Regions from separate parts of the Homo sapiens genome. Here regions 2 and 3 are each linked to region 1. The links come from fine-mapping of genetic effects on gene expression. A gene starts in region 1. Each other region holds a variant in brackets. All regions are shown on one strand. Distances are from middle to middle.

Region 1 (2,824 bases):
GAAGCTTGACCTTGATGGACAGACCAATAAGGGTGGCCATGCTGCAGTGCGGAATGGTTGGTGTGAAAGCCACAGCCACTGTACTCTCGGGGTCGCTAACCTGGTTGTGGAGGAGAGATGTCAAGAGTCAACCACCCTCAGCCCAAGGTCCCTCTTCTTAGTTTGTTGTTTTGGGCAAATCATCCAACTTCTATGGGCCTCAGTTTCAACACCCATAAAATAGGCACAACAATCTCCCTCCCCAAAGATACCCTTCGGTGTTCGTGAGCATAGAGCACGCCAGCTCCTGCTGCACAGAAACCTTTCTGACTCTCTGGAACAACTCGCTCCCCTCGGAAGTGACTCACCTGAACCCGCACCTGCTCTACTACGTTCAACTCCTCTAGCGTCAGTGGATGCTCCGGGTCATTGATGGAGCGAATCAGATGTGGGAAGTGAAGGAAAAGGGACTCTGCGCCCTTGCCCACTTAGAACCCTCTGCCAGGAACGCCCTGCTGGGATGCGGCTCCACCAGCTGCTCGATATCACTGCTCCCCCCACCGCAAGCCCCCGGAACCCGCCCGCGCCCAGCAGCGGCGGATATCGAAGATCTCGCGTGCGTCGATGCTGTCGGGAACCTGCTCGTCCTCCTCGCCTGCCGTCACAGGCCGCTCCCCAGAGCGCTGGTAGATGAGGGGGTTGGCATTCTCCAGGAGGCCGCCGCCGACCCCGCCGCCGCCTACCATCGCGGAACCACCACCGCTGATCCTAGCAGGCGTGCGCTTCCGCTCCAACCCGCGCACTTCCGGAGAACGGGAAGGGGGCGTGGCGTGGCGACGGAGTCGCGCGAGGGACACGCCGCGTTGTGGGTTCTCGGCCTGAGGTGCGAGAGAAGCGGTGACCGCGGCCCTGGCTGCTCGGACCCGGGAACATGATGGTCGCTGGAGCAGAAGGCGCTGAGAAGGGACCACGGCGGCGCTGGGTCGTGCGAGCCAGTAGCGGGCTGAAACGTAGAGGCCAGAACCAGGTCTCAGGGGGCACTAAAGGCGGTCGGAGGTAATCCCCACACCGCTTCCTCCTGGAAGTCAGGCTGGCCGGGAGCTCCCGTATCCAGGACGGTTGGTCGCCTCTGGCCTGGCAGGGATCCTAGTGTCTCGGGACCTCCCGGTGACGCGCCTGCCTCCCCTGCTGCACCATAGGCCCGGGAGTACGGCGTCCCCACAGCTTGGACCGGCAGGGGCTCGTGAAATGTTTGTCAAGTGGATAAATGACCATGGCCGTGGTCTCCGCGGGAGGTGAGGAAACTGAAAGCCACCGAGGAAAAGGGGGGCGCTCCTTAAGAAGTGCCGCGGTCACGTGTACGTTTCAAAAGAATGGCGTGACTGAGTAGGGAGGGGACCGCGGAGACCCTCAGACCCTGGACTGTAAGGAGATGAGGGGCCGTGAAGGGGAACCCAGGAAACTGAGTCCTGAAAGCAAGGAGGAACTTCCAGAATGAAGGGCGCCGACACTCCTTCCTGCCTTTGCTCAAGCGGTTCCTTCACCCCGATCAAGTTCCTTCCCATTTCTCCATCTGGGGGATCCTGAACGTGCACATCCTCAGAGAAGCCCTCCTGGGGTCTCCAATTCTAGTTTATTGCCCCCTCCTATCGATCCCCCAGCGCGCTCATCGGGCCTGTGGACAAGGACAGGTTTGAAGAGAGGATTCCCTGGATCGCGGAAGGGCTGCAGGAATGGCACAGCCCCTTCCGAGGATGCCAAAGGAGCCCGGGCAAAGGAAAGTGGCCGTGCCCGGGCCTGCCTACCACTAGATCCCCACCCACCTATGACTGCTCAGTCCCGCTCTCCTACCACACCCACCTTTCCCGGCCCAAGCCAGCGCACCCCGCTGACTCCCTGCCCAGTCCAAACTCCAAGGCTGGGCAAGGCACTGATCCACTGCTGGACAGACCCGGGGCAGCCTCTGGGTGAACAGCAGCGTGTCCGCCGGCAGCGAACCGAGACCAGCGAGCCGACCATGCGGCTGCACAGACTTCGTGCGCGGCTGAGCGCGGTGGCCTGTGGGCTTCTGCTGCTTCTTGTCCGGGGCCAGGGTGAGGCTCCCTCGGAGGGGCGACAGGGACCGGGCTCAGATCTGCCAAATGCTGCGGAGGCAGAACCTGACAGTGCGGGAGGGCAGGCGCCTGGGAGGTAGGAGCTGGTGGAGATGACAGCGTGGAACTCGTGAGCCCCACGCAACGCCTCCCCGCCGCCCAAGGTGGGCTCCTAGAAGCACAGAAAGGGTCGGGCTGGGGGACACCACGGCAAGGAACCAGCGGAGTACAGGGGCCCCAGGAGCGCCGGGACATGCCAGGCCGGGTAGGCAGCCTGGGGTCGGAGTGGGTGAGGGATTGGGGTGTGGGGATTCAGTCCATTTCCCTCTTATGATTGTGGCTGTAGCGGGTGCTGCCGGCCGGTAATAACAGTAATAGCTTCTGGCAGCATCTGGCTCTCAGTGTGTGGCGTCCTTGGCCAGGGGGGATGCCCTGAGCCCTCCAAAGGGGCCTCAGACAAGGATAGTGGTCCTTGGGGAACAGAAGCCCCCAGGCGCCAAATCCTAAAGCAGATCTAAGAGGCCACAGTGGCTGGGTGCGATTGGCTCACTCCTTTAATCCCACCACTTTAGAAGGCCAAGGGAGAGTATCGCTTGTGCCCAGGAGTTGGAGGCCAGCCTGGACAACATAGTGAGACTCGGAGTGTACAAAAAATTGAAAGAAATTAGTGGGCTGTGGTGGTCTGTGACCTGTAGTCCCAGCTACTTGGGAGGCTGAGGTGGGAGATCACTTTAGTAGGGGAGGTTGAGGCT
Region 2 (2,844 bases), 29 kb before region 1:
AGTCTAGTCTGGCTTCTGAGTGCCCCTGTGAATTCTGGCTTTCTGGTCAGTGGGGATGTGAAGACAGTGAGGGTCCTCATGTCTCACAGATAGGGGTCACTGGGATACGACCACTGGGTGGTGTTGGGGGGGCCCTGCATGAGTCCTGTGACACTCCTGTGAGGGTGTGAGGGTAGCTGCGTGACTACAAGGTAAGAGGCTGTTGTCATGGAACCCATGGTGAGCGTAGTTGTGACACCGGAATCGGGAGATCCAGGGAGCCTCATCTCCAACTGTGACACATGGGGGTGATGGAGGGAGCCGAGTCCCAGTCCCCACATCAGTGACTCCTGCAGCTCTCACAGCCTGACTCATTGCATGGCCCCGGACCTGGTACCCCCAGCCTCCTCGCCCCCGGCTCTGGCGCCTTTCTCTCCTCGCGTCCTCCCTGTTCTCAGGCGACTCTTCCTCTTTTGTACCCCCCCCATGTCACCCACCTACCAAAGGGGTCCCAGGGAGGAGGTCAGGGATGCTAGGGAAGAACGAGGAAGGGTGGGCCGAGGCAAGCTCCTCGCACACTCACACATTCCGATGCGTGCATCACACAGACCAGACTGCAGCATATACTTATACACCCACAGACACACGTGTGCACACACGCCTGGTAGAGTGACTGGGCCACTAAGAAGCCTCCCAAGCTCAGTCTTCCAACATCAGCCCTGTCTGGTAGGCCCCCACCACCCCTTAAGTCAGGGTCCCATGCCGCTGAGGCCCTCACATTAGAAACGCATCCTCCCGCCGCAGCAGTGTGTCTGGAGGTGACACCCTAGGAAGAACTTCTGCCCCGAGGCCCCAGCTAGAGTCCTGGGTGGGTGTAGGTAGATGTGGGTGGGGTGGGGTCTCTGAGGGCCCGAGACTGTTGCTTTCTTTGTGGGTGAGGGCCAGACTGACCTCTGGGCCTCCGGCTTCAAGAGCCCTAATCGCTGGGGCTGGAAAAAGTTTAAAAATATCCTCATGTTTACATTCTTTCCAAGCTGCCTCCTGATCCTCCGTGCTGGGTCCCTTTGATCTGGCCCAGTGCCTCTGGAAGGGGCCTGGGAGAAGGGGAGCATGAGGCCTCTGCTGGGGCCCACCCCTCAACCCCCTCCAGCTCCAGCCCAGAACCCTGTGAGACCCTGGACATCACAGACCCTAAGAGCACCTGGGCACTGGAAGGGAGCTGGGGCTGGAAGGGGTGTCTTGCACTCTTGCTTTGGGGCTGGAGCTGGGGCCCCTCTCCAAACTCCCTCCCAAAAGCCTGGGCCTCTTGGGACCTCTAGGGAGTGTGTGTAAGTGCGGGGATGTAGGTCCCTCAACAATCCATGCACTGGGGAAAGTCACATTTACTGAGCCCTGCAGTGCCTGGCACTGTGCTAAATGCATTGTGCAGGGATTATCTCATGTAGTTTTCCTAACGACAAAAACTTGTATCACCAAGTAAGCCAAGGCTCTGAGAGGTGAAGCAGTTTTCCTGGGAACACAT[C/T]GCATGGATAAGCACAACACATGCTCTTCTACCCATAGAGCTATTGGTTGGCCCCCACCTTGCTCTAGCAGGGGCGAGGCCCTGCCTACAGAATGAAGCCTGCCTCACTAGCATTAATCTCTACAGGCATTCACTGGCCCACTGCCAAGCCTAGAGACCAATCAGCTTTGTGTCTCTCTTCCTCTGCGACCCAGGATAAGCCACACCCCCTCTCTGATCCTCACCTTTCTCTCTTTCTGTTTATGTAGAGACAGAGTTTCACTTTGTTGCCTAGGCTGGCCTTGAACTCCTGGCTTCAAGCAATCCTCTCACCCTGGCCTCCCAAAGTGCCAGGATTACAGGCATGAGCCACCGCACCTGGCCACCTTCCTCTGCAGAATGGGGCTGAGGATACAGGAGAGTTTTATGTCCCCAGATGCCCAAGGAACCTGGGCCCTTGTCTGTGGAGAAGGGGCTTGTGGACCTGGCGGTCAGCTCCAGCAGTGACAACCAAGAGTGGTCCGGGGCCTGGAGGCCCGAGGAAGAAGCCCTCAAACTAGAGCAGATGCCTTCATTTGCCCTGGTATCCTGTCATCCACCCTTTCGTCTGTGGGTCTCCCATCCACCCGATTACCAACCCACCCATCCATCTACCCACCAATCCATCCAGCCATGCATCTGCCTAGCCATCCACTTATTCATTCACCCATGCACCCTCCTATCTCCCTACTTATCCATCTAGGATAAGGGCCAGAAAGTGGTGGTTATAGCTCAAGTGACGCATCTTATGGCTGTATGAACCTAGAAATTTCCCTCCTTCTCTTTGCAATTCACCTTTCCATCTTTACAAGAAAGAGCTGATCTGGGTGATCTCTAAGGCCCTGCTGGGAAATCTTGAGGGAGCAGAGACCACCTGAACGCTGTGGACATTTCCAGAGAGGTAACACGGACCTTGGACAGATAGTTATGCCATGTACCGTGGTTCTAAGACTCCCAGCTACGGCCCTTAACCTCCCTGATCTTCAAGATCCTCCACTGCAAAATGGGGCCAATAATCCACCCTCGTAGGTTGATAGGAAGATTAGATGAGACACTACCTCCAGAAGATTTGCACCCTGAAGACTTCTGAGTGCATGCAGGCTGAGCAGAGGATATCCTGGCAGAGGGGCAGGGAATCCCTGCCTGGATGAGGGTAGCCAGCAGAGCCTCCAGTGGGGGTACCTGAGCCAGGATGACAGGGGCCAGCCTCAGAGTCCAACCCCTGGGCTGGGGATCCTGGCTGAGTCTTTGCCAGGTTGCCCGCCCTGTCTCTCTTAGCTGGGCTTGGCCCCTATCCCACAGAATCTGCCAATAGTGGAGAGATT
Region 3 (2,500 bases), 59 kb after region 1:
GAGGGGGCAAATAGACAAGGGCACTTCAGGAAGGGACATTGGATGTGAGGCTTCAACGACTCTTGGCAATAGGAGTGGGGCAGGATGACAGCCTGGAAGAGGAAGAAAAGAGTATCCACGGGAAGTCGGATTCAACTTGGCCTATTTCATATCTATGCCAAGAGCTGGCTATGGTGTAAGTTTGCTTGCATTGTGTATGTGTGCTTGTGTGTGCGTGTAATAAGTATGCTGTAGATAGATTTGTTGTCACCTATGTACAACTGCACTTGTACGCATATGTATGTATGTATATGGACATGCATTTTACTCTTCTGTTTCTGCATGTTTCTTGGAGTGTTTGTTTGTCTGTTTTGAGACGGAGTCTCACTTTGTCACCCAGGCTGGAGTGCAGTGGCAAAATCTCGGCTCACTGCAACCTCCGCCTCCCGGGTTCAAGCGATTCTCCTGCCTCAGCCTCCCGAGTAGCTGGGATTACAGGTGCCCGCCACCACGCCTGGCTAATTTTTGTATTTTTAGTAGAGACAGGGGTTTCACCATGTTGGCCAGGCTGGTCTCGAACTCCTGACCTCAAGTGATCTGCCCACCTCGGCCTCCCAAAGTGCTGGGATTATAGGCGTGAGCCACTGCGCCTGGCCTTTTTCTGCATGTTCCTTTGTAGATGAGCTGTGCTCACATGTACCTATATCATAAATTAGCATGTACATGTGAGTATTAGATGCGAGTATGCATATGAGTAAGAATGCATATATGCGTGTATGATTTCTTCCTAGAAACATGCTGGGCTAATGTTAACAACAAGAACAGAGGCGTAGGCCGGGCGCGGTGGCTCATGCCTGTAATCCCAGCAGTTTGGGAGGCTGAGGCGGGCAGATCACAAGTTCAGGAGATCAAGACCATTCTGGCTAACATGGTGAAACCGTGTCTCTACTAAAAATACAAAAAATTAGCCGGGCATGGTGGCGGGTGCCTGTAGTCCCAGCTACTCGGGAGGCTGAGGCAGGAGAATGGCATGAACCTGGGAGGTGGGGCTTGCAGTGAGCCGAGATCGTGCCACTGCACTCCAGCCTGGGCGACAGAGCAAGACTCCATCTCAAAA[A/G]AAGGACAGAGGTGTAGCTATATTAATATCAGACAAACAGAAATCAAAATGAATAATGCATTTATTGCCATTAAATGACGCAGAGAAATAGCCCATATAATAGACATAAATTTTTATTTATTTATTTATTTATTTATTTATTTATTTTTTGAGATGGAGTCTCACTCTGTTGCCCAGGCTGGAGTGCAGTGGCGCGATCTCGGCTCACTGCAACCTCCGCTCCTGGGTTCAAGCAATTCTCCTGCCTCAGCCTCCTGAGTAGCAGTATTACAGGTGTGTGTCACCACGCCCAGCTAATTTTTGTATTTTTAGTAGAGACGGGGTTTCACCATTCCTGACCTCGTGATCCACCCACCTTGGCCTCCTGAAGTGCTGGGATTACAGGCGTGAGCCACCGCGCGCAGCCGACATGAACTTTTATATGCTTACTGATAGGGATTTGAAATGTTAAATGAGGTCGGGCACGGTGGCTCATGCCTATAATCCCAGCACTTTGGGAGGCCAAGGCGGGCGGATCACGAGGTCAGGAGATAGAGACCATCCTGGCTAGTACGGTGAAACCCCATCTCTACTAAAAATACAAAATTAGCCAGGCATGGTGGTGCATGCCTATAATTCCAGCTACTCGGGAGGCCGAGGCAGGAGAATGGCTTGAACCCGGGAGGCAGAGGTTGCGGTGAGCCGAGATCACGCCATTGTACTCCAGCCTGGGCAAAAACAGCGAAACTCCATCTCAAAAAAAAAAAAAAATTAGCCAGGCGCGGTGCTGTGTGTCTGTAGTCCCAGCTACTCAGGAGGCTGGAGCAGGAGAATCACTTGAACCTGGAAGGTGGAGGTTGCAGTGAGCCAAGATTGGGCTATTGCACTCCAGCCTGGGCGATAGAGAAAGACCCCATCTAAATAAATAAATAAATAAATAAATGAGGGCCGGGCGTGGTGGCTCACACCTGTAATCCCAGCACTTTGGGAGGCCAAGGCGGGCAGATCACGAGGTCAGGAGATCGAGACCATCCTGGCTAGCATGGTGAAACACCGCCTCTACTAAAAATACAAAAATTAGCCGGGTGTGGTGGCGGGCGCCTGTGGTCCCAGCTGCTCTGGAGGTTGAGGCAGGAGAATGGCGTGAATCTGGGAGGCGGAGCTTGCAGTGAGCCGAGATTGCGCCACTGCACTCCAGCCTGGGCGACAGAGCAAGACTCCATCTCAAAAAATAAATAAATAAATAAATAAATAAATATAAATAAATAAACGAAACGTTAAAGGAGAGAAAAAATTCTGAGAGAAGCACAAGAAGAAGTGGACAGACACACAATGGTTATGATCAATTGTTATGAAAAGCAGCCACTGCTTCCCATGACAGATGGGCCAGGGTCCCATTTGTGGCTGAGTGGCTGCGCAGGGGTG

The links. PIP is the estimated chance that this variant, and not a neighbour inherited with it, causes the effect.
Region 2: its variant is fine-mapped to the expression of CES2 in esophagus mucosa (GTEx, PIP above 0.99).
Region 3: its variant is fine-mapped to the expression of CES2 in thyroid (GTEx, PIP above 0.99).

The regions. Positions count from the first base shown.
Region 1 is chr16:66,933,640-66,936,463 of GRCh38, forward strand. CES2 (carboxylesterase 2) reads left to right here and starts at 1,877. Exons shown (of 12, transcript NM_001365405.1): 1 at 1,877-2,072. The coding sequence starts at 1,997. It overlaps CIAO2B (cytosolic iron-sulfur assembly component 2B), which reads right to left and starts at 763. Exons shown (of 5, transcript NM_016062.4): 1 at 584-763; 2 at 348-427; 3 at 1-100. The coding sequence starts at 725. RefSeq lists enhancers at 369-418, 449-648, 1,487-2,099.
Region 2 is chr16:66,904,334-66,907,177 of GRCh38, forward strand. It overlaps LOC107984821 (a long non-coding RNA gene), which reads right to left and starts at 927. Exons shown (of 3, transcript XR_001752244.2): 1 at 758-927. RefSeq lists an enhancer at 1-1,324. The variant C/T (reference allele first, on the strand shown) is at 1,502.
Region 3 is chr16:66,993,009-66,995,508 of GRCh38, forward strand. All of the region lies in intron 1 of CES4A (carboxylesterase 4A), which reads left to right. Among named protein-coding and RNA genes, the nearest start is that of CES4A, 5.7 kb to the left of the region's middle. The variant A/G (reference allele first, on the strand shown) is at 1,097.